Linked DNA regions of Homo sapiens: region 2 is linked to region 1. Evidence: fine-mapped expression QTL. A gene starts in region 1. The other region holds a variant in brackets. All regions are shown on one strand. Distances are from middle to middle. Region 1 holds the start of EAF1 (ELL associated factor 1). Region 2 overlaps COLQ (collagen like tail subunit of asymmetric acetylcholinesterase).

Region 1 (10,572 bases):
AGGCAGGAGAATTGCTTGAACCCGGGAGGTGGAGGTTGCAGTGAGCCGAGATCGTGCCACTGCACTCCAGCCTGGGCAATAAGAGTGAAACTCCATCTCAAATTAAAAAATAAAATAAAATAATTTTTTTTTGTAGAGACAGAGTCATACTTTGTTGCCTAGGCTGGTAAGGTTACTATTTTCAAAAGTCTAATGTGGCTGAGTGTGGTGGCTCACGCTTTTAATCCCAGCACTTTGGGAGGCAGAGGTGGGAGTTAATCCCAGCACTCTGGGAGGCAGAGATGGGAGGATCTCTTGAGCCCAGGAGTTTGAGAACAGCCTAGGCAACGTAGTGAGACCCGTCTCTACAAAAAAATAAAACAATTAGTTGGGTGTGGTGGTGTGCATCTGTAACCCCAGCTACTCAAGAGGCTGAGGTGGGAGGATCACTTGAGCCTGGGAAGTCAAGGCTGCAGTGAGTCATGACTGTGCAACTGCACTCCATCCTGGGTGACAGAGTGAGACCCTATCTCAAAAAATAAAAAATAAAAATAGGCTGGATGCGGTGGCTGATGCCTGTAATCCCAGCACTTTGGGAGGCCAAGGCAGGCAGATCACTTGAGTTCAGAAAGACCAGGCTGGGCAAAATGGAGAAACCCTGTCTCTACAAAAAAATACAAAAATTAGCCAGGGGTGGTAGTATGTGCGTGTAGACCCAGCTGCTTGAGAGGCAGAGGCAGGAGGATCATTTCAGCTCAGGAGTTTGAGGCTGCAGTGAGCTCTAATACACACCACTGCACTCCAGCCTGGGTGACAAAGCAAGACCATGTCAATTAAAATAATAATAATAAGATTAACTTAAAAAAAAAGTTTAAATTTTAAAAAGTCTAACGAATGCTAAAACTGTGAAAGGTTGATGGGGAACGAGATACTTGCAATGTCACCAAAGTGTTCCCCACATATTGGTTAATGGCAAAGGGAATTTTACAATGGAGGAATTAGGTAGTTACTATCTTAACCCTGTGATCAAAACCAGTAAGATCTCCAGATATTATTGCCTCATGACAGGATGTAATATGCAAGACACAACATTACCTATTAAAGCATTTTTGCCAAAAATATTTTACCTGATTTAAATTTAACTTCTAGTTCACAGATAATATAGAACATAGAGGAATAAATTAAACAGTAATGCAAATAAACAATTAGACCAATTTGGAAATTTACTATAGAAAATTGGCTTCATCTGTCATCAATGTGGAAAGAGGTATGGGGTAGGGCAAGGGTATTTTAGGTTAAGGAGATTTAAAGGACATAAGTGAGCCAGGCGTGGTGGCTCACGCCTGTAATCCCAGCACTTTGGGAGGCCAAGGCGGGTGGATTACCTGAGGCCAGGAGTTTGAGACCAGCGTGGCTAACATGGCGAAACCCCATCTCTACTAAAAATACAAAAATTAGCCAGGAGTGGTGGGCACTTGTAATCCCAGCTACTTGGAAGGCTGAGGCAGGAGAATCACTTGAACCCAGGAGGTGGAGGTTGCAGTAAGCTGAGATTGCACCACTGCACTCCAGTCTAGGCGACAGAGCGAGACTCCGTCTCAAAAAATAAACTAAAATAAAAAATAAAGGACATAAGTGTAAGAGGTAGTGCTTGACTGGATTATAAACAGCTATAGGCAGGGTGTAATCCCACACTCTGGGAGTCTGAGGAGGGAGGATTGCTTGAGCTCAGGAGTTTGAGACCAGCCTAGGCAACATAGGGAAACCTCATCTCTACAAAAATTTAAAAACTAGCCAGGGTCAGCTGCCATGGCTCACGCCTGTAATCTCAGCACTTTGGGAGGCTGAGGTGGGAGGATTGTTTGAGCCCAGAAGTTCGAGACCAGCCTGGGCAACGCAGTGAGACCTTATCTCTAAAATAAATAAATAAACAAATAAACACTAGCTGGGCACGGTGGCACATGCCTGTAGTCCCAGCTACTTGGGAGACTGAGGTGGGAGGATCTGCTTGAGCCAGGGGGGTCAAGGCTGCAGTGAGTTGTGATTGGGCCACTGCACTCTAGCCTGGGTGAGAGTGAAACCATGTCTCAAACAAAAACAAAAACAAAAACCAGCTATAAAAGACACCTGGAAGCCAGGTACAGTGGCTCATACCTGTAATCCCAGCATTTTGGGAGGCTGAGGCAGGTTGATCACCTGAGCCCAGGAGTTTGAGACCATCCTGGGCAACATAGTGAGACCCCATCTCTACAAACAATTAAAAAATTGTCTCTGCTACTTGAGAGGCTGAGGTGAAAGAATCGCTTAAGCCCAGGAGGTTGAGGCTGTGGTGAGCCATGTTCATGCCACTGCATTTCAACTGGGTGACAAAGAACCCATCTCTAAAAAAAGTAAAAAATAAAACTAAAAGACACCGGGAACTATTTGGGGAAATCTGAATTTGGAATGGATGTTAATAACATTGGGGGATTATGTTATTTTATTTGTTTATTTAAAGACAGTCTTGCTCTGTCACCTAGGCTGGAGTGCAGTGCTGCAATCTTGGCTCACTGCAACCTCCACTTCCCTGACTCAAGTGATCTTCCCACCTCAGCCTCCCAATTAGCTGGGATTACAGGTAAGCACCACCATGCCCAGCTAATTTTTGTATTTTTGGTAGAGACAAGGTTTCACCATGTTGCCCAGGCTGGTCTTGAACTACTGGGTGCAAGCTATCCACCAGCCTCAGGCTCCCAAACTGATGGGATTACAAGTGCGAACCAACATGGCAGGCCAGATTATAGTTATTTTTGTGAAATATGATAAACTTATTGTGGTTGTGTAGAAAAAGGCCTTTTTTAAGGGGAGATGTATGCAAACATTTAGGAGTGAAATGTCTTGACATTTGTAATATACTTTAAAATAGTTCAGCAAAGAAAAATTGTAAAGCAAAAGATGTTAATTATATGGATGTTATTATGGTATTTTTTCCTGCTTTTCTTGAATAAAGCTGTGTTTCTACATGCACTGTATATGTATGTAAGCAGGACAACTACATGTATGGTGACTATAGCTGGTTAGCTCCAGGGAAGACTAGAATTGGGCAAATGAATAAAAAAGGCAGATCAAACAAGATCGGCAAGAAAACAGAAACACAGCAGAATACATAGATGGTGCACCAACCTTAACATATTCAATGGCTCTTGGAGAAAAATCACAGGCATAGGCAAAGATATTCGGATCTTCTTCTAAAAGTGGGAATAAACAGTTTCCAACCCCACAGCCAGCTTCAAGCATTGTTAACTTTTGATCTTCAAACTGGGGAAAGACAGCTCAAAGTTATAGTATATCACATTTGCATAATGAAGAAATAAACCAAACTAAAAGGTCCAGAATATGAGAGGTCTCCGACCCCATGGAGCAGACGATCAACAAGAGAACTAATAAGCAAAAGCTAATACTGGTACTTCATTTGTCATCCAACATTAACAATTTGGTGTGGAGGAAAAAAACAGCACAATGGCTAACTCGGCTCTGGAGTTAAACTGCCAGCACCCAAATCTCAACTCCTCCCCTGCATTCTATCCTTGGGTAAATCACTTAAACAGCTCTGTGCCTCAATTTTACCTTGGGGACAAATGAGTACAATACTAATACTTACACTTCACAGAGCCGGTATAAGGGTCAAATGATAGGCCATGTAGAAAACAGCCATGGTAAATAGTTACTAACATTAACTATTATATTATTCTGAATCTGTCACTGAAGTCACTTAGCATGAATTTATATTTTTGTTTTTAAAATTTTTAATGTTTAAAATTTTAAAATTCAGAACATAGGGTCTCACTATGCTGCCTAGGCTTGGCTAATTCATGTTGACTATTCACAGGCACAAGCCGCCTGCCTCAGCCTCTGGAGTAGCTGGCAATAGCCACCAGACCTGGCTCTTGAATTTAATATATAATGTTTACAACTATCAGATCAGCTTAAAGAAATAGAAAACACCCACTAAAGTTCTCTCTCCTATATGTTAACCAAACCAGAAACTGCTAAAACTTTGGTGTTAAGACCAAACAGTATATTTCTCTCCTAAAACGCAAAGCATTTTGATAGGCTTCTTAAATTCTCTACTTCGCACTCTCCCTAGGAATGCAATACAGCACACCTCTTCACATTTTTTTTTCTTTTGAGACAGAGTCTCGTTCTGTCACCAGGCTGGAGTGCAGTGGCACAATCTCGGCTCACTGCTATCTCCGCCTCCCGGGTTCAAGCGATTCTCCTGCCTCAGCCTTCCAAGTAGCTGGGACTACAGGCGAGCACCACCACACCCAGCTAATTTTTGTATTTTTAGTAAAGACGGGGTTTCATCATGTTGGCCAGGATGGTCTCGATCTCTTGACTTCGTGATCCGCCTGCCTTGGCCTCCCCAAGTACTGGGATTACAGGCATGAGCCATGGCACCCTCTTCACATTTTAAATGAAGAACAGCTCAGATAAGGCGTAATATTAGCTTACCTCTCTACATGATCTTAGCTCCTCAAACTCTCTGGTGGTCCAGTGTCTGTCTTTGAAGAAATTAGTGCTATTTCTTTTGTAAAAAAGATCCCAATTTTTCTGAGCCTCTTGTTCCAATTTCTGCTGTTTAAAATCAGACACCAAAGTTTGGTCTCTTTTCAGTTTCTCCTCTTCTTCAGAGGTGAGAATCCTTGCCTGCAGCCCTTTCCTTTGCAAAGAAGCCATCTCTGAAACTGACGGTAACACTTAACACAGCTGAAGATTCTCCATCACCAAATAATATGAATCCACGCTAATGGATCAGATACATTTCCTGAGGTGAGTTTCACGCCTCAAACAGCACAGGGGGCTTCGCAGAGAAAAGAATTAGATTCTGGTTAGTGGTTACAGTTCAAGACGCCAGGTTCAATTCACCAAATGTTTATGAGATGCAGACTGTACAAAAAAAAATCCTTCCCGCTATATGAGAGGTCACAAAGAAGACAAACACACAGTCCCTACCTTCAGTGGGCTTACATTCATTTCAGTGGCCAGACTATCTCATGCACCATACTTTTATTCAAACCAGATGAGTCAACTATTACAATAAATCGATTTAGTTTACGAAAAAGGACGCTCTCAAGAACTGACTGGGAAACCTTGCGAAGAAAATATTCCTCAATTTTCGGTGCCCGCGAAAGGGGTGACTTAAAAACCACAATGGCCTTAGCTGGAAGCGGGTGGTCAATTGTCAGATACAAGTGAGGTCATCGTTTCCCAAGGGTCGGACCTCCGTTTTTTCGGGGGAAATGAAGCTAAGCCTGGGTGGGCTCATTTCCTGATCACACTCACAAGAGGCTGTCATAGGAACCAGAGGGAGCGTCACTTTGCAGGGACTGAGACCCTCGCACCGCCATCACCGGGCAAAGTGGAGAAAGAGACCCAATGACGCGTGGCTGAGGTCCCGAGGATCCATCTCAGGACCCTCAGGATAGACTAGGCTGCATGGGCCCCTAGACCCTGAGGAGGGCGTCCATGATGGCTAGCCGACCCGCGTTAATTTAGTCAGCCACGCTCAGGGCTCACCGTCATCAGTTCCTAAATTCACCTGCAGGGCTAGGGCCAGGCGCACTCACCCCACAGCCAGCCCCACTGGGCCTCGGAGGCAGAATACGGGAAGAACCGCGAAACAACCCTAAACCAATTCTGAGGACCACGAATTCGGATTATCCGGGAGTTCTTTTGCCATGGCACCGCCCCCGCCACTTCCGCTAGGAACCCGGAAGTTCCTACCCGACGCCGGAAGTCCCACGGCCTTGCCTCCTCAGATTCCTCTCTCACCCCCACGCAGAGGAGAGAACTTGCTTCTGGACCCGGGTGGGTGCCGGCTCGGCTCTCCTTGTCTTCCAGAGCGGTGGCCCGGAAGCACAGTCCTCCCAGACGCCAGCGCCAGAAGCTCGGATCGCGGCTGCACCGGGAGAGCGCCGATCTGGGTGCGAGGCAGGTGCGGGGCCATGAATGGGACCGCAAACCCGCTGCTGGACCGCGAGGAACATTGCCTGAGGCTCGGGGAGAGCTTCGAGAAGCGGCCGCGGGCCTCCTTCCACACTATTCGTTGTAAGTCAGCGCTCCCCACGGTTCCCTTCGGCCGCTCCAGCCGCCACATATCAACCTTGACTCCTTCCTTTCTTCCCTCGGCCCTTCAGATTCCAGGGAACCCCCTGCCAGCGTCAGTTACTTTCTCTCGAACCCCAAATCCTTTGGGACATCGATTTGTCCCTTCTTTTACCCAGATTATTTCTCCCAAATCTTCGTCACTCCCTACTATTCTTCTACCTCACAGTCTCAAACACTAGTTCCAAAGGTCTTTGGCCTCTTTCCATTTCCATCCCTCCCCGCCCCCAACCTCGCCCCTAAGGCAAACCTCCCTCCCCCAAGGCAAACCTCCCCCCTCTTATCCGGGTCCACTTCTCCCTCGAAACCCCTCCCCTCCTTTCCGATGCTCCCATCAGGGTTCTCCACATTTAAAAGACGCTTCTTGTTTGTTATGAGCCTCATCCACTGCCTTAGAACCCATTCTCTTCCCTGCTTTTCTCCTCCGACTTGGTCCTGGACTCCCAAATACTGTGCTTTGTCCCCTCTACAGCCAAAGAATTGGCATCCTCTCTGCGCCTCATCAGAGTCTTCTTCCATCTCCTTTCTGTGCTTCATTTGACTTGGATGTCTTTTGAGGTCACCTATACCACCCGGGCTTTTCCTCCAGACCAAGTTCCTTGTGGGTAAAGAGTCAAATCAGAGTTCGTGAGCCTGGGATAGGTTAAAGATTGGTCTACGTTTGGAAGCAGAAGAGAGCAGGCGTAAGGAATGTCCAAATAGTCATTATGCCGGACCTTTTTCTACATAATTATAGACGCTGTTGAGAGAGTGCACTTCCACCCTATGTCCTGGGTGAAGGTTTGGCAGTTAGGAATTGGCTGACAGAGCATCCCTCCGTGATTCATGAACTTCTGGTTTCCGTGGTGCTAACGCTGTTGTTAAGACTTGTTTTTGTCAGAGGACCTAATAGATGTGACTCAACACATGTGAAGAGGGCGTTTTAGATAATGAAATCCCATCTTTGTGTAGTCACTTGCCATGCCATTGCTATGCTTCCTACTGACAGCAGATCCAGCTCTTTCAGAGAGAAGAGATGGGAATAAGATAAGAACATCATTTCCTGAAGAGTTTACTAAGTTGATGTTTTCTTTTGGTGAAGGGCAATGTGGAATTTAAATCATATAGTTCATGTGTGCACCTGTCCTGCAGTTTGAGGCAGGTGTGAATGTGAATTAAGATGGCTATTATGTTGTATTCTAACTGCAGTTTAGAAACACGAGCAGGATAACTTGCGGAGATACAGTTCAGTTGTCTGCTATGAACATCTACGAAGTGTCTTTGTTAAAGCTGTGGAACTGGCTGAGAGTGGTGGCTGACACTATAATCCCAGTACTTTGGGAGGCCGAGGTCGACAGATAGCTTGAGCCCAGGAGTTTGAGACCAGCCTGGGCAGCATAGTGAGACCCCATCACTATTAAAAAAAAAAAAAAACAAAAAACAGCTATGGAACTTGAGTATGGCAAATCCTAATTTTGACAGTTTCTATGCGGAATGAAATCAGCTTTTGATGATGCTGTGGCCTTTCATATTTCATATAGAGTTTACAGTCACAGAATCTGTTTCATATGCTGTTACTTTTGATCCTCACAACCCTAAAAAAGCAACTTATTATGGATGATGAGACAATTTTCCTCTCTCCCTTGGGAGAAGGGAATATCTTTGTTTAATAAAATGGCCTGTAAATTCTTTTTTCCCTCTAGAATAATCAAAAGGGGGTCAGAGGAAAAGTATGTGGAGGTGTAGATGAAACAAGATTGTCCCTGAGTTGGTAATAATTGAAACTGGATAATGGTATACCAGGTCTCATTGTACGATTCTCTCTACTTTTGTGTATCTGAAGTTTTCCATAACGAAACAGTTTTTTAAGAATTCTAAATTATTTTTATTTTCCATTCATCTGAGTAATAATTTTAATTCTTAAATGGAGATGCCCAGGAAACCCTTATTATAAGTAACCTGGTGGGTAAGTGCTTTTTTTCCTTTCCCTTTAGATGATTTTAAACCAGCATCTATAGACACTTCCTGTGAAGGAGAGCTTCAAGTTGGCAAAGGAGATGAAGTCACAATTACACTGCCACATATCCCTGTGAGTTTATTTCATTTTTTTTTTTAATGTAAGATCACAATGAATCTTTGTCTTTTATATTATTGCAATTTAAACTTCCTACTTTTAAAAATGTTTAGATTTCTAAAGTGGCAACTTAAGGAAAAAAGTAATTTTGGGGAGTGGGGTGGGGTGGACTTCATGCTAGGCAGGTGCTTGATTAAAAATAATTCTTGTAATCCTAGCATTTTGGGAGGTGGAAGTGGGTGGATAGCTTGAGTTCAGGAGTTAAAGACCAGCCTGGGCAACATGGTGAAACCCCGTCTGTACCAAAAATACAAAAAATTAGCTGGGGGTGATGGCACATGTCTGTGGTTGCAGCTGCTTGGGAAGCGGAGCTGGGAGGATCGCTTGAGCCTGGGAGGTAGAGGTTGCAGTAAACCAAGATCACGCCACTGCACTCCAGCCTGGGCGACAGAGTGAGACTCCCCCTCAAAAAAAAAAAAAAAAAGATTATTCGTCGTTTTCCCCAATCTTCCTTTTCCCCCATCTGCTACTGAGTAGACAAGGTTCCTGTCTGGACACCTAGCCCCTCTTTTAGATATAGCTTTTCTCCCAAGCAACTCCAGACAGAAAAGCCCTAGGTGCCCTGCTGATTATATGGCCACAACAGCTCAGGAGTGTGAGGCAACCAAGCCAGGAGTTAAGGCAGGCAGGAACCACAGGTGTGGCACATTCAGCTGATTTAGGGATGAAGAACTAAATTGAAAGCTGGATTAAGAACCCTTGCAGAGAAAGACTTTTGTGAAGCTCTGCCCAAGGCAGCACTAATGACAAAGCACCAAAGGGTCACATGATGCTCTTAGTGAACATGTGTTATTGCATGTCACACCCCTGTCCTGGAACATAAGTTCTCGGTAGCTGGAGACAGAATGAAAAGTCTCTGGACAGGGAGATCTGGAAAGCTTTGTGGTGAGGAAAAATTGCCCATTCAAACTGCTGTTTGATTACTTGTTACCTTTGGCAAGTTACATCATCTCCCTTTGGACCTTAGTTTCCCATATGTAAAATGAAAGGTTTAGAAAAATGGTCCCTAAAGTTCTTTCTAGCTCTATATTTTTACTATATAAATAAGGAGTCAAAGAGCCAAGCAGTTTTTTATTCTAAGCAAGGCATTAAATATGATATTCAACAAATATTAATCAAATGCCTCCCACACATTGGCCCATTACTAGGCATGAAGTATATAACCTTGAACAAAACAAGCACATTTCTTGCCCTGGTGGAGCTTATGGTCTGGAGTTTAAATTAATACAAGAAAATATAGCAGTTATTCTACAAAATCAGGGACAGCTTCCTTAAGGAAGTATCTGTGAGCAGATCTGGAGGTTGGGTCATTTAAAGAGAGGGGGCAGGATATAGCTGGCAGAAGCCTTGTTAAAGCTGGCAGAAGCCTTGTTAAAGCCCAGAGGCAGGAGAGAGCTTGAGGATAGGAGGGAAGCCAGTTGCCTTCTGCTCTGAAGCACATGCGCAGGGGAGTATGCTGCAGGGTGAGGTGGAGAGCCAGGGAAGGGCCCGGTAGTGCAAGGCCAAGTGGCTAGTTTAAAGATTTTATCCTTTGGCCTGAGAGCAATTGAGGAGTGATTGAAAGGCTTAGGCAGATGAGTGACATGATTTATTTATTCTGAGCCAACCAGGATAATGACCTTCTCTTGGAAAATGCTCTGTTGGTTGCTTGACATGAGAAGGGGAAACCCTGGTCTCTCTAATGACAAAGAAATAGAGATCACTCACAGTTTTACTATACAGAGTGATAACTCTGCTTAGTATAATGAAAGTAATGGTTAATTTTTCTCTCTTGGAACGTATATAGTAATTAAAACTTTTATACTACCTTTTTGATTACTTAGAACGCGTTGCACATTCACAAATTCTTGCTATATTATTTCTCCTTTATTTTTGCCTCGGAAACCAGAAGGAGATAAAATAGAAATCAGTTCAACCTGTTCTTTTTGAATAGCTCTGATAAAAGATTTCATCAGGTGGAGTCATCTATAAATTCAGTTGATATTCATAACTGGTATGTTTAGTTTGATCATCTTATACTTTTGTGGCAAATAGGGATCCACACCACCCATGACTGTGTTCAAGGGGAACAAACGGCCTTACCAGAAAGACTGTGTGCTTATTATTAATCATGACACTGGTGAATATGTGCTGGAAAAACTCAGTAGCAGCATTCAGGTGAAGAAAACAAGGTATGTGAATAGCCAGATGCAGGTTTATATCATGTTTCCAAACCTCTGTTATCTATTCAGTTTTTATAAGGTTGTGAACATCTGCTTGCTCATAGTGTTCTATCAATAATCTTAACACTACCTGTGCTCAGACAAAATATGTAAATATGTGCTCAGAGTAAA
Region 2 (10,572 bases), 35 kb after region 1:
TTTTTCTTTTTTTCTTTTGTTTTTGAGATGGAGTCTCACGCGGTTGCCCAGGCTGGAGTGAAGTAGCGTGATCTCGGCTCATTGCAACCTCTGCCTCCCGGGTTCAAGCAATTCTCCTGCCTCAGCCTCTCGAGTAGGTGGGATTACAGGTGTGCACCACAATGCCTGGCTAACTTTTGTATTTTTAGTAGAGATAGGGTTTCGCCATGTTGGCCAGGCTGGTTGCGAGCTCCTGACCTCAAGGTGATCCACCCACCTCGGCCTCCCAAAGTTCTGGGATTACAGGCATGAGCCACCGCGCCCGGCCTCGGATTTAACATTTTTAAATATTTAAAACGTTCCCAAGACTTAAGTTAAAAGGCAATGTCATATAGTCAAGTAATTTGACATCTGGAAGTGATTCTTAAAATTATCCTACTCAAAGATATTCTTTACAGCATTATTTACATTAGTAAAAAGCTTGGGGGTGGCCAATAAGCAATAGGTTGGTTAAACACCAACACTGGTTAAGTAAATTGTAGCACAGCCACACTAGATGGATGATTATGATGAACAGATGTCCAAGGTTTACTTCAAAATAATACAACAGAGAATGGGCAGGAGTGAGTAGGCATAAAGAGAAAACAAGGACACAGGCTCGCCATGAGTTGATCATTATTAAAGTTGGGTGAAGGGTACACAGGGGTTCATTACACTATTTGTTCTGCTTTTATATGTATTTGAAATTTTCCCTAATAAAAAGTTTAAAATGTTATTTATAGAGTGTGGAAACATGGCAGGATTTCAACTAAGATAACAAAGTATAACTTTTTTTGAGACGGAGTCTCGCTCTGTTGCCCAGGCTGGAGTGCAGTGGTGCTATCTCAGCTCACTGCAATCTCCGCCTCCTGGGTTCAAGCGATTCTCCCACCTCAGCCTCCCAAGTAGCTGAGACAACAGGCGTGCACCACCGCGCCCGGCTAATTTTTTAAATATATTTTTTAGTAGAGATGGGGTTTCACTGTATCGGCCAGGCTGATCTCGAACTCCTGACCTTATAATCCACCCACCTTGGCCTCCCAAAGTGCTGGGATTACAGGCATAAGCCACCATGCCCGGCCAAAAGTACATTTTTATACAATATAATCTCAACCATATAAAAGTTAGATTTTAATAAGACAAAGAAAATACCCCAAAATGGACTCACAATCAAATGGACAATTTGGTTTTCCTCTTGATTTTCTCATATTTTCCAATTTCCTATAATGAGGGTGTACTCAGAGTCGTGAAAAAAAGTTAGTTTTACTGAAAGGATTTTACAAAGCCCCATAAGGATCAGGTGAGAGGTCCTCACGGATAACCACCCCAGACTTCTCCCAGAAAGCCTTACCACAGGAACTCGCGGGGAACTGGGCCCATACACAGATTCCCCGTAGGAAGGGTTATTCACATTCATAGTGGGTCCACAAAGACATCTTCCTGGAGGCCCGGGAAATCCTCTTTCCCCTTTGGGTCCCATTATAAGTTGTCCTAGGAAGCAACAGACTGCTGTGTTACTAGAGCCAAGGAAGAGAAGACCAAACAACCAGGGAGATGTGAGCGACCTTTGCAACAGAAAAAAGGTTAAAGTCCACAGCATTTCAGGGTATGCCTGAGGGAGAGGTTCAAAGAGATGCTTTTGATCCAAGACATGGAGGAGCTAAGGTAAGAAAAATAGCTGGTAGGCGATAGTTTCCCCCTCCTTCCTGCCTTGAAGACAGGCAAGATGTCTGGTGTTGCAGCAGCCGTGTTGCAACCAGGAAGTCACAAGCATGAGAAGATAAGCCAACATGCAGGAAAGACGAAAGGCTCATGGGGCCTGGGGCCCTGACAGTGACAGTCAGAGGCTGAATCAAAGCCAGCTACTGCCTGCCTCTGGATTTCTTTATTGGAGAAAAACAATGTCTTATTTGTTTAGACCATTATTAACAGAGGGCTTCTTGCCGACAAACACATTATTGACTGTTAACTTTTATTGTTTTAAAAAACTTTTGTTTTTCTTATATATAGAATTTTTTTTTTTTTTTGAGATGGAGTCTTGCTCTGTTGCCCAGGCTGGAGTGCAGTGGCACGATCTTGGCTCACTACAACCTTTGCCTCCCAGGTTCAAGTGAGTCTCCTGCCTCAGCCTCCTGTGTAGCTGGGATTACGGGTGTGTGCCACCACACCAGGCTAATTTTTGTATTTTTAGTAGAGACGGGGTTTTGCCATGTTGGCCAGGCTGGTCTCGATCTCCTGACCTCAAGTAATCCGCCCACCTCAGCCTCCCAAAGTGCTGGGATTACAGGCGTGAGCCACCATACCCAGCCAATGTAGGATCTTTACAGAGGAATTTCTGGATGTGGGTTTCTTTCATTTCTTCTGGAAGAAAATAGAACATTAGTATATGCTCTGCCCATTTACCCTCCCCTGGTGCTGAAGAAGTGAGGACATGTCTTGAAAAGATATGATCAGAAAGTGTACTCCCTAGCAATGTGGAAGAACTGTGAGGGTAGTACCTTGGTTTTTAAAGGCTCTGATACCCAGGATACACCTCAGACCAATTCCATCAAGACTTCTGAAAACTGAACTGAACCTAGGCAGCATCCACACTTTTATTTATTTATTAAAAAAAATTTTTTTACCACTTTAGCATAAGGCATCCTTTTTTTTTTTTTTTTTGGAGACGGAGCCTCACTCTGTCGCCCAGGGTGAAGTGCAGTGGTGTAATCTCAGCTCACTGCAACCTCCGCCTCTCAGGTTCAAGTGATTCTCCTGCCTCAACCTCCTGAGTAGCTGGGACTACAGGCACGTGCCATCAGGTTTGGCTAATTTTTGTGTTTTTAGTAGAGACAGGGTTTCACTCTGTTGGCCAGGCTGGTCTCGAACTCCTGACCTCAAGTGATCCATCTCCCTTGGCCTCCCAAAGTGCTGGGATTACAGGTGTGAGCTGCCGCGCCTGGTCAGGCACCCATATTTTATTATTATTATTATTATTATACTTTAAGTTTTAGGGTACATGTGCACAATGTGCAGGTTAGTTACATATGTATACATGTGCTAGGCATCCATATTTTTAAAAGCTCTCAAGATGATTCCAATTTGCCCCAAGGTTGAGAACTGGGCCATTCCCCTGCCAGATCATCCTCCCTTCATCCTCCATCCCTCCCCAGCTGCCTCTCAACTCCCTTCTGATCTGGGTTCAAACATCACTTCTTGAAGGAAGACTTTTTGAATCCTCAGACTCTGTCATGTATACCTGGGATACAATTTCATGGTTTCCTATGCCTTTCTTCACAGCACTTCTCTTTGTGATTCTATATATTGTGAGATTATTCCATCAAGGTTGATCTCCAGTAGAATGTCGCTCCACAAGGACAGGGCTAGTGCCTGTTTTCATCCACCAGGGCTTACACAAAGTAGGGGCATGGAAAGTGTTTGATGATCGAATGAATGAATGCCGACTAATTGGAGAGAAAAAGTCTTCAGAAGAGGGTAAAAGTCACATTCTGGCTGGCAGAAAAGCACCAGAACAAAAGCCATCTAACAGGAAGTGAGGAAAGAGAAAAAAAGATGGGGACTGAGAAGAGAAATAGGTAAGGATCCCTTCTTCTGGGAAAATAGCGAGGGGTGGGTTTGGAGGCCAGCCAGTCATTGGTGTCAGGCAGTATGACATCTGGGGCAGCCAGGGGCTGGGAACACAGTTCACAGATCCAGAAGGGCAGGAAATAAAATGACCCCAGGGGAGAGATCTGGCCAGGACCCCAGGGAAAACACTGCAGTCGGAGGAGACTGAACTTTCCTGAGCGAGTTGACAGGTATTCGTACAATCAGAATGCTGACAGCATGAGGGGAAGGGCACTGTGCCAATATCTTATCCTAAGTTATGGTTGTTTGTTCTAACAAGAAATACAAATATAATTCTGTAGGAAGAGCTCCAGTCTGTGTTCTGATATTTTCAGAAGAGCCCAGAGAGACAGGGAATCCACCAGGCTAGGAATATTCTGGGTAATTAAGCACTTGGGGAAATTGAAGTGGAAAAGCTCTGTGACCAAGAATATGAGGGTGGCATTGGAACAGCCTTCCAGAAGGCTCTGTGACCCCAACAACTCCTCCAGAACCATGGCCTGAGAGACAGTCAGGAGTTTGTCCCATTAGCTGCTGATGAATGGTGAGGCTGAGATTTGAATTCATGTTTTACTTAACACTATGCTGTTCAAAAGACAAATGTCCAAGAATACTGATGCTCTCAGGAAGCTGGCAATTCCCAGGTACCACGTTGATTCACTTATACTCTGTCTGGGTACAGGAAGGACTCAGCCAAATTTGTAATTTGATTATTGCAAATTACATCCTAAAGGCATTTTGCCTTTATTCCCCCCCCGACCTCTTAGCCCCTCTTACCCTCTAACTCAGATAAGTACAAAGCTCTCACCCTTTCCACCTCCCCCAGCACCATCTGGTCCCACAGAGCTGGGCACCAGAAACCGAGGTCACCTCCCAACAGGATGTGGCAGGGAGCCTGCTGCCACCACTGCA[G/C]TTTCCCTGCAGCTTCCTCCCAGTTGCTGCAGGGCATCTGTTACCCCTGCCTGTTTTCTGCCAGGCTATACTAAAGGACTCAGCAACCTGAACTTCCCCACCCTGACCTCTGGGAGATCATGTCTCAGCTGGGTTTCATCGCCACCCCCTGCAGCCAGAGGACCTGGCTCTCCATCTTTTCCCAGGCAGGCTCCCGCTTCCATTGGCTGCCTCAGTGGGAAAGGATCAGGAAAGGGGAATCTAGGAGAGGGCAGAGGAACCAGCACAACAACCTCTAGGGCCGCCTGGCTGACACTCACCCATTCTGGACCAGGGTGGCCCCCAGTCACTGCTGTGACCTTGCAGGCATCACTTCTCTTTGAGGTTCAAGATTCTTTTCTCTAAGGGGAGGGTAGGACTAGACCAGGGGAGTTTTAACCTGTGGTCTACAGAGGCCAAGGCTATCTCACGATGGCGCTGGGACAGGGGTTCTGGAACCCTGGGAAACAGGGTGCAAAACCTTGGATGTAGGTATATACAGTTTTTTCCCCCCCGAGAATGGGTTTGGGACTTTCATCAGACTGTCAAAGGTAGTGTCAGGAACCAATTTGGGGGGCCTAGTCCAACTCTGGATGATTATCCAACTGGTCCCAGGCACAGGGATAACTTATTTATTTATTTATTTATTTATTTATTTATTTATTTATTTATTTTTGAGATGGAGTCTTACTCTGTCGCCCAGGCGGGAGTGCAGTAGCGAGATCTCGGCTCACTGTAACCTCCGCCTCCCGGGTTCAAGTGATTCTCCTGTCTCAGCCTCCTGAGTAGCTGGGATTACAGGTGCCCGCTACCATGCCCGGCTAATTTTTGTATTTTTAGTAGAGATGGGGGTTTCACCATGTTGGCCAGGCTGGTCTCAAACTTCTGACCTCAAGTGATCCGTCCACCTCAGCCTCCCCAAGTGCTAGGATTACAGGCGTAAGCCACCGCGCCCGGCTGAATATCTCTTTTTAACTCCTTCCTTGCCCTCTCTCCCCACCCCTCCAATATTTTCCAAAGAGCAGGATTATTTATTGCCCCATCTTCTCTTTACCTTCTTCAGCCCGCTCACTCAGGAAGCCTCCTCAGAAAGGAAGTGGCTCAAAGGACGGAATGGGGGGCGGGGGCATCAATCCAAAGAGATGGTCCCACCCTGCTTGGCTCCTAAGGAGATGAACTGTGAACCCACAGAACCCCTGCCTGGGAGCCCCTGCAGGAAGCAGCCCTGTCCACCCACATACCAGGTGCCACTGGGGATGTGAAGCTGACTCAGCCGCCTACCTCGCCCTCAAGGATCTAGTGGGAAGATGAAACACATCTGCAGAAACGTTACCAATGGAGAGGCCATAACAGAGAGGCAATGACCAGGGCTCAGGGGAGGGTGATCCATCCTGTTAGGGGCCAAGGAAGGCCTTACTGAAAAGAGAGCTTCAAAGGAACAGAGAATTTTGTTGGATGGACAGAAGGTGAGAGGAGTGCCATGTAAGGTCATGTGGACCCAGAGAGACCATAGGAATAGCTCCAGCTCCACAGACGGCAAGGTGTCCTCTGAAGGGTAGAGGGCAGGGCGTGATTGGGCAGAGGCTGGGGTAGTCAAGGGAGAGGGAGGTGGGCATACTGGGTGGAAGAGAGGGAGCTGGAAGGCCAGGGAGAAAAAGTATGACTCTGCGGGGCCTGCTAAGAGGACAGGATTGCAATACACCGAAGACAGACAAGACAAGAGAAACAGCAGGCACCAAGAAGCTGCTGACAGCTCCAGCCTAGCCCTTCTCATCCATCCCCTAGCCCCAGGAGGGAACCAGACAAGTCAGGTGAGGGCTGGCCTTTACAAAGAGATAAACACAGTGAGACCATTAAGATCCCAGTCCGCTAAGGATCTCCTACACATCCCACATCCACCAATCCCATTGCCCCTGGACTACTCCTCAGTTTTTTTTGGTTTTGGTTTTGTTTTTTTTTGTTGTTTTTGTTGTTTTTTGTTTTTTGTTTTTTTTGAGATGGAGTCTTGCTCTGTCACCCAGGCTGGAGTGCAGTGACTCGATCTTGGCTTACTGCAAGCTCCGCCTCCCGGGTTCATGCCATTCTCCTGCCTCAGCCTCCCATGTAGCTGGGACTACAGGCGCCCGCCACTACGCCCGGCTAATTTTTTGTATTTTTAGTAGAGATGGGGTTTCACTGTGTTAGCCAGGATGGTCTCGATCTCCTGACCTCATGATCTGCCCACCTCGGCCTTCCAAAGTGCTGGGATTACAGGTGTGAGCCACCGCGCCTGGCCTACTCCTCAGTTTTGTGAGCCCCTAGGTACCCCAGGGGCCAAGAGAGTCCCTTCTGAAGGCACAACTCAGGCCAAGCTCTCAGTCTCTGCGGTTGGTAGCTCATAGTTATGGGGCTCCAGGGGGACATCATGCCTTCCAGAACCAAGGAGGAAGAGGACTAGTTGAAAGGACCCCCATTCAGATCATCCAGCCAATTCCAGAAATGAATTATGGAGTGTGGGCACATGGCCTGGGCTGCATCTCAAATCTGATTCCCCTAACAACATGGAAACAGGCGCAGCAAACATAAGTTATTACCCATACTAATCAGTGTTTGTTCTCCCAGTATTTCCTTCCTCCTCTCCCTATTTCAAGGAGGTAGCAAGAGTTTGTGCTTTCTTGCCCTTGCTAAAAGCAGGTACTATTGGAAACAAACTTTTCTTTCTGCCTTCTGTTCTCTGAAGGACAAAGCTCCTAATTGGGGTGCTGGTATATGAGGAGTATGAGGAAGGAGGGGTCAGGGATGGAAGAGGAGAGACCTCCCTAGACATGGACAGGAGAGGGACCCCTTGTATCCTGAGAAAGAGACAGGTCTCAGAAAGAATGGTTGTGGGGTGCTCCTTGGAAAGTTGAACTGTGGGGACCAGGACTCCCAGCCTTGAAAATGTTCTGATACCCACGTATGGCATGAGAACAGCAGCCACCAGGTATCTGTGGACCACAGGGACTTGGACAACAAGTCTATTTCTATTTCTACTCTATTTCAGAGGTGAATGGAGTAGACCAAAGGTTGGAGGGACCTTCCCTGACATTTTTCTGCCATAATTCACCAGGATCTTTGCCCAACCTATTTGTGGTTGTTGGAGGAGTAGTGAAAATCCTAATAATGCCTGAATTAATTTATTTGGCATCCTAGTAGGTTGGACTCTCAGAGCCAGATTTAACTTAGTTTAAAGGATCTAACAAAATATGACATTTCTTGCCCATCCCATGATGTGGTTGCAAATATAGTTCCATAAACACAGGAGGAGGGGGAATACACTGTGGAATTGTAAATGTCTTCATTTTCTTAAGAAAAAAGTTGGAATAAAAATTGTTTGGATTCCTTTTGTATAACTGAAGACAGAAAATGTTGCAGTCAACAAATGATCTTCTTGATACTGTCTTTATACAGTTGATGTGCTGTGAAAGCCCCTACCATGAGCTGACAAGGGAACGAAATAAAGGGCTTAGCTAATAAAATTGAATGAGGTAAAAGAGGAAGCAGCAGCTGGGTGTGGTGGCTCACGCCTGTATTCCCAGCACTTTGGGAGGCCGAGGTGGGCGGATCACGAGGTCCGGAGTTCCAGACCAGCCTGAACAAAATGGTGAAACCCCATCTCTACTAAAAATACAAGAATTAGCCAGGCGTGGTGGAAGGCACCTGTAATCCCATCTACTCAGGAGGCTGAGGCAGGGGAATCACTTGAACCCGGGAGGTGGAGGTTGCAGTGAGCCAAGATCGCACCACTGCACTCCAACCTGGGCGACAGAGCAAGGCTCCGTCTTGAAAACAACATACAAGGAAGCAGTGTATCTATGCCCTTCTCAATAACAGACTTTATATTTTGATTTATTTATTTATTTATTTATTTATTTATTTATTTATTTATTTATTTTGAGATGGAGTCTCGCTCTGTCACCCAGGCTGGAGTGCAGTTGCGCGATCTCGACTCACTGCAAGCTCCGCCTCCCAGGTTCATGCCGTTCTCCTGCCTCAGCCTCCCAAGTAGCTGGGACTATAGGCGCCCGCCACCACGCCCGGCTAATTTTTTGTATTTTTAGTAGAGATGGGGTTTCACCGTGTTAGCCAGGATGGTCTCAATCTCCTGATCTCGTGATCTGCCCACCTCGGCCTCCCAAAGTGCTGGGATTACAGGCGTGACCCACCGCGCCCAGCCAACTTTTTATTTTTTTATTTTATTTTAGTAATTTCTTTCTACATCTTTTTTTTTTTTTTTTTTTTTTGGAGACAGAGTTTCGAGATGGCACAATTTCAGCTCACTGCAACCTCCGCCTCCCAGGTTCAAGTGATTCTTCTGCCTCAGCCTCAGAGTAGCTGGGATTACAGCCGCGTGCCACCATGCCAGGCTAATTTTTGTATTTTTGTATTTTAGCAAAAACAGAACGGTTTTTGCCATGGTTGACCAGGCTGGTTTCAAACTCCTGACCTCAAGTGATCTGCCCGTCTCGGCCTCCCAAAGTGCTGAAATAACAGGCGTGAGCCACCCATGCCCAGCCTCTTTCTCTAGCTATTGCAAACAAATAAGGACTCTTTTATAACACTGTAAATTGGAAAAAACCTGCAATGTCACCTTTACTTCTAGGTTTAAGAGAATTGCTTGGAGCCATGACACTTTTATCTAGAAAAAGGTATTAGTTGATGAAATATGTTCCTGTTATTTTTCACTTAAGGTATAAATGACATCATTAATGTGCTTTTTTTCTGTCCTCTATTTGTTCTCCAGAATGCTAAAACAAATTCAGAATGGCATTTATCTCTCTTGCATAAAAGTTGAATGAGCTAAATCGTGGAGAAATTACAAAGATATTGGAGTGTCTCTGGTAGTTTCTAACTTGAAACACAAGGCATCTCTGCTGGCATCTCCTTGTGCCCTCTCTGGGAGGCTGGCCAGTACTCCAACAGTGGATCAAGTGAAGCAGTGTAGCTCTTACCTGCAGGTGGGGGGCCTGGGGGCCCCGGACGGCCAGGTTGACCAGAAGGCCCAGGCTTGCCTGGTGGGCCCATAACTCCACTATCCCCTTTCTGTCCCTGACAGAGAGAAAGGCAGAGCCTGTTATGAAAGCATGACATAGCAAGCTTCCCGCCCCATTTATCACCAAATCAGAGATCACCTTGCACTTAAGGAGCAAGAGCCCAGTGGGGGATGCAGCTCCAGAGGTCTTGACCATCGAGCTCTTAATAAGCTTAGGGCAAGTGACATTTGAGATAGTGATGGCTACAAATTTGTAGACCTTAGTTCTTGCTCTACAAATGTGGCACATGGCAGCTGAAAGGAACCAGTCAAATCTACTCTAGGCCCTGGGCAGATGAGGAAATGGAGGCCTAGAAATGAGCTATTTTCACTCATTGGCTTCCCGTTGCACTCAGGATAAAGACTTAGCTCTTTACTGCAGCCTGCGAAGCCTTGCATGGCTAGGCTTTCCAGCTTCATTCCAGCCTTTTGGCCTTTTTGGTCTTCAAGGGCACCATGTCTATTATCCCCCTTCTCAAGACCCTTCTCTCTGCCCCAAAATCTCTTCCTTCCCCCTAGCCTAGTTAACTGTCACTCACCCTTTGGCTCTCAGCTCAAATGCCCTATGGCAAAGCCTTCCCTGACCTTCCTGGATGGAGTCAGTTCACCCCACCATAAGCTCTCATAACTCAGCCTGTTTCCTTCATGGCATTTATCCCAGATCATAGCATATGGATTATTTGTGTGGTCATTTCATTGATGTCTCCCCATGAGACATACACTCCCTATGGGCTGGAATCTGTCTAGCTCACCTCCTTTCCCCAGATGAAATGAGGGAGGACAAAGATGCTAGAAACACAATGGTAGGCAGCTTTGCTGATCTGTAAATCCAGAGGTTTCACCTTGACCTTGAGACTCCAGGTAACTCATGTCATTGCTTTGTACCTCAGTTTTGTCATCTTTAAAATGAGGCCAGTAAATTTACACCCACATAGGTCTGTGAAACTAACAAAGATCTCAGATGTGAA

Evidence for each region. PIP is the estimated chance that this variant, and not a neighbour inherited with it, causes the effect.
Region 2: its variant is fine-mapped to the expression of EAF1 in whole blood (TOPMed, PIP above 0.99). The same link has a PIP of 0.9 or more in blood mononuclear cells.

The regions. Positions count from the first base shown.
Region 1 is chr3:15,421,814-15,432,385 of GRCh38, forward strand. It overlaps EAF1 (ELL associated factor 1), which reads left to right and starts at 5,785. Exons shown (of 6, transcript NM_033083.7): 1 at 5,785-6,069; 2 at 8,100-8,194; 3 at 10,274-10,410. The coding sequence starts at 5,967. It overlaps METTL6 (methyltransferase 6, tRNA N3-cytidine), which reads right to left and starts at 5,731. Exons shown (of 6, transcript NM_152396.4): 1 at 5,589-5,731; 2 at 4,474-4,822; 3 at 3,142-3,276. The coding sequence starts at 4,698. RefSeq lists a silencer at 5,702-5,865 and an enhancer at 5,862-6,141.
Region 2 is chr3:15,456,817-15,467,388 of GRCh38, forward strand. It overlaps COLQ (collagen like tail subunit of asymmetric acetylcholinesterase), which reads right to left. Exons shown (of 17, transcript NM_005677.4): 12 at 9,525-9,621; 13 at 1,370-1,509. Among named protein-coding and RNA genes, the nearest start is that of MIR4270, 34 kb to the right of the region's middle. The variant G/C (reference allele first, on the strand shown) is at 4,537.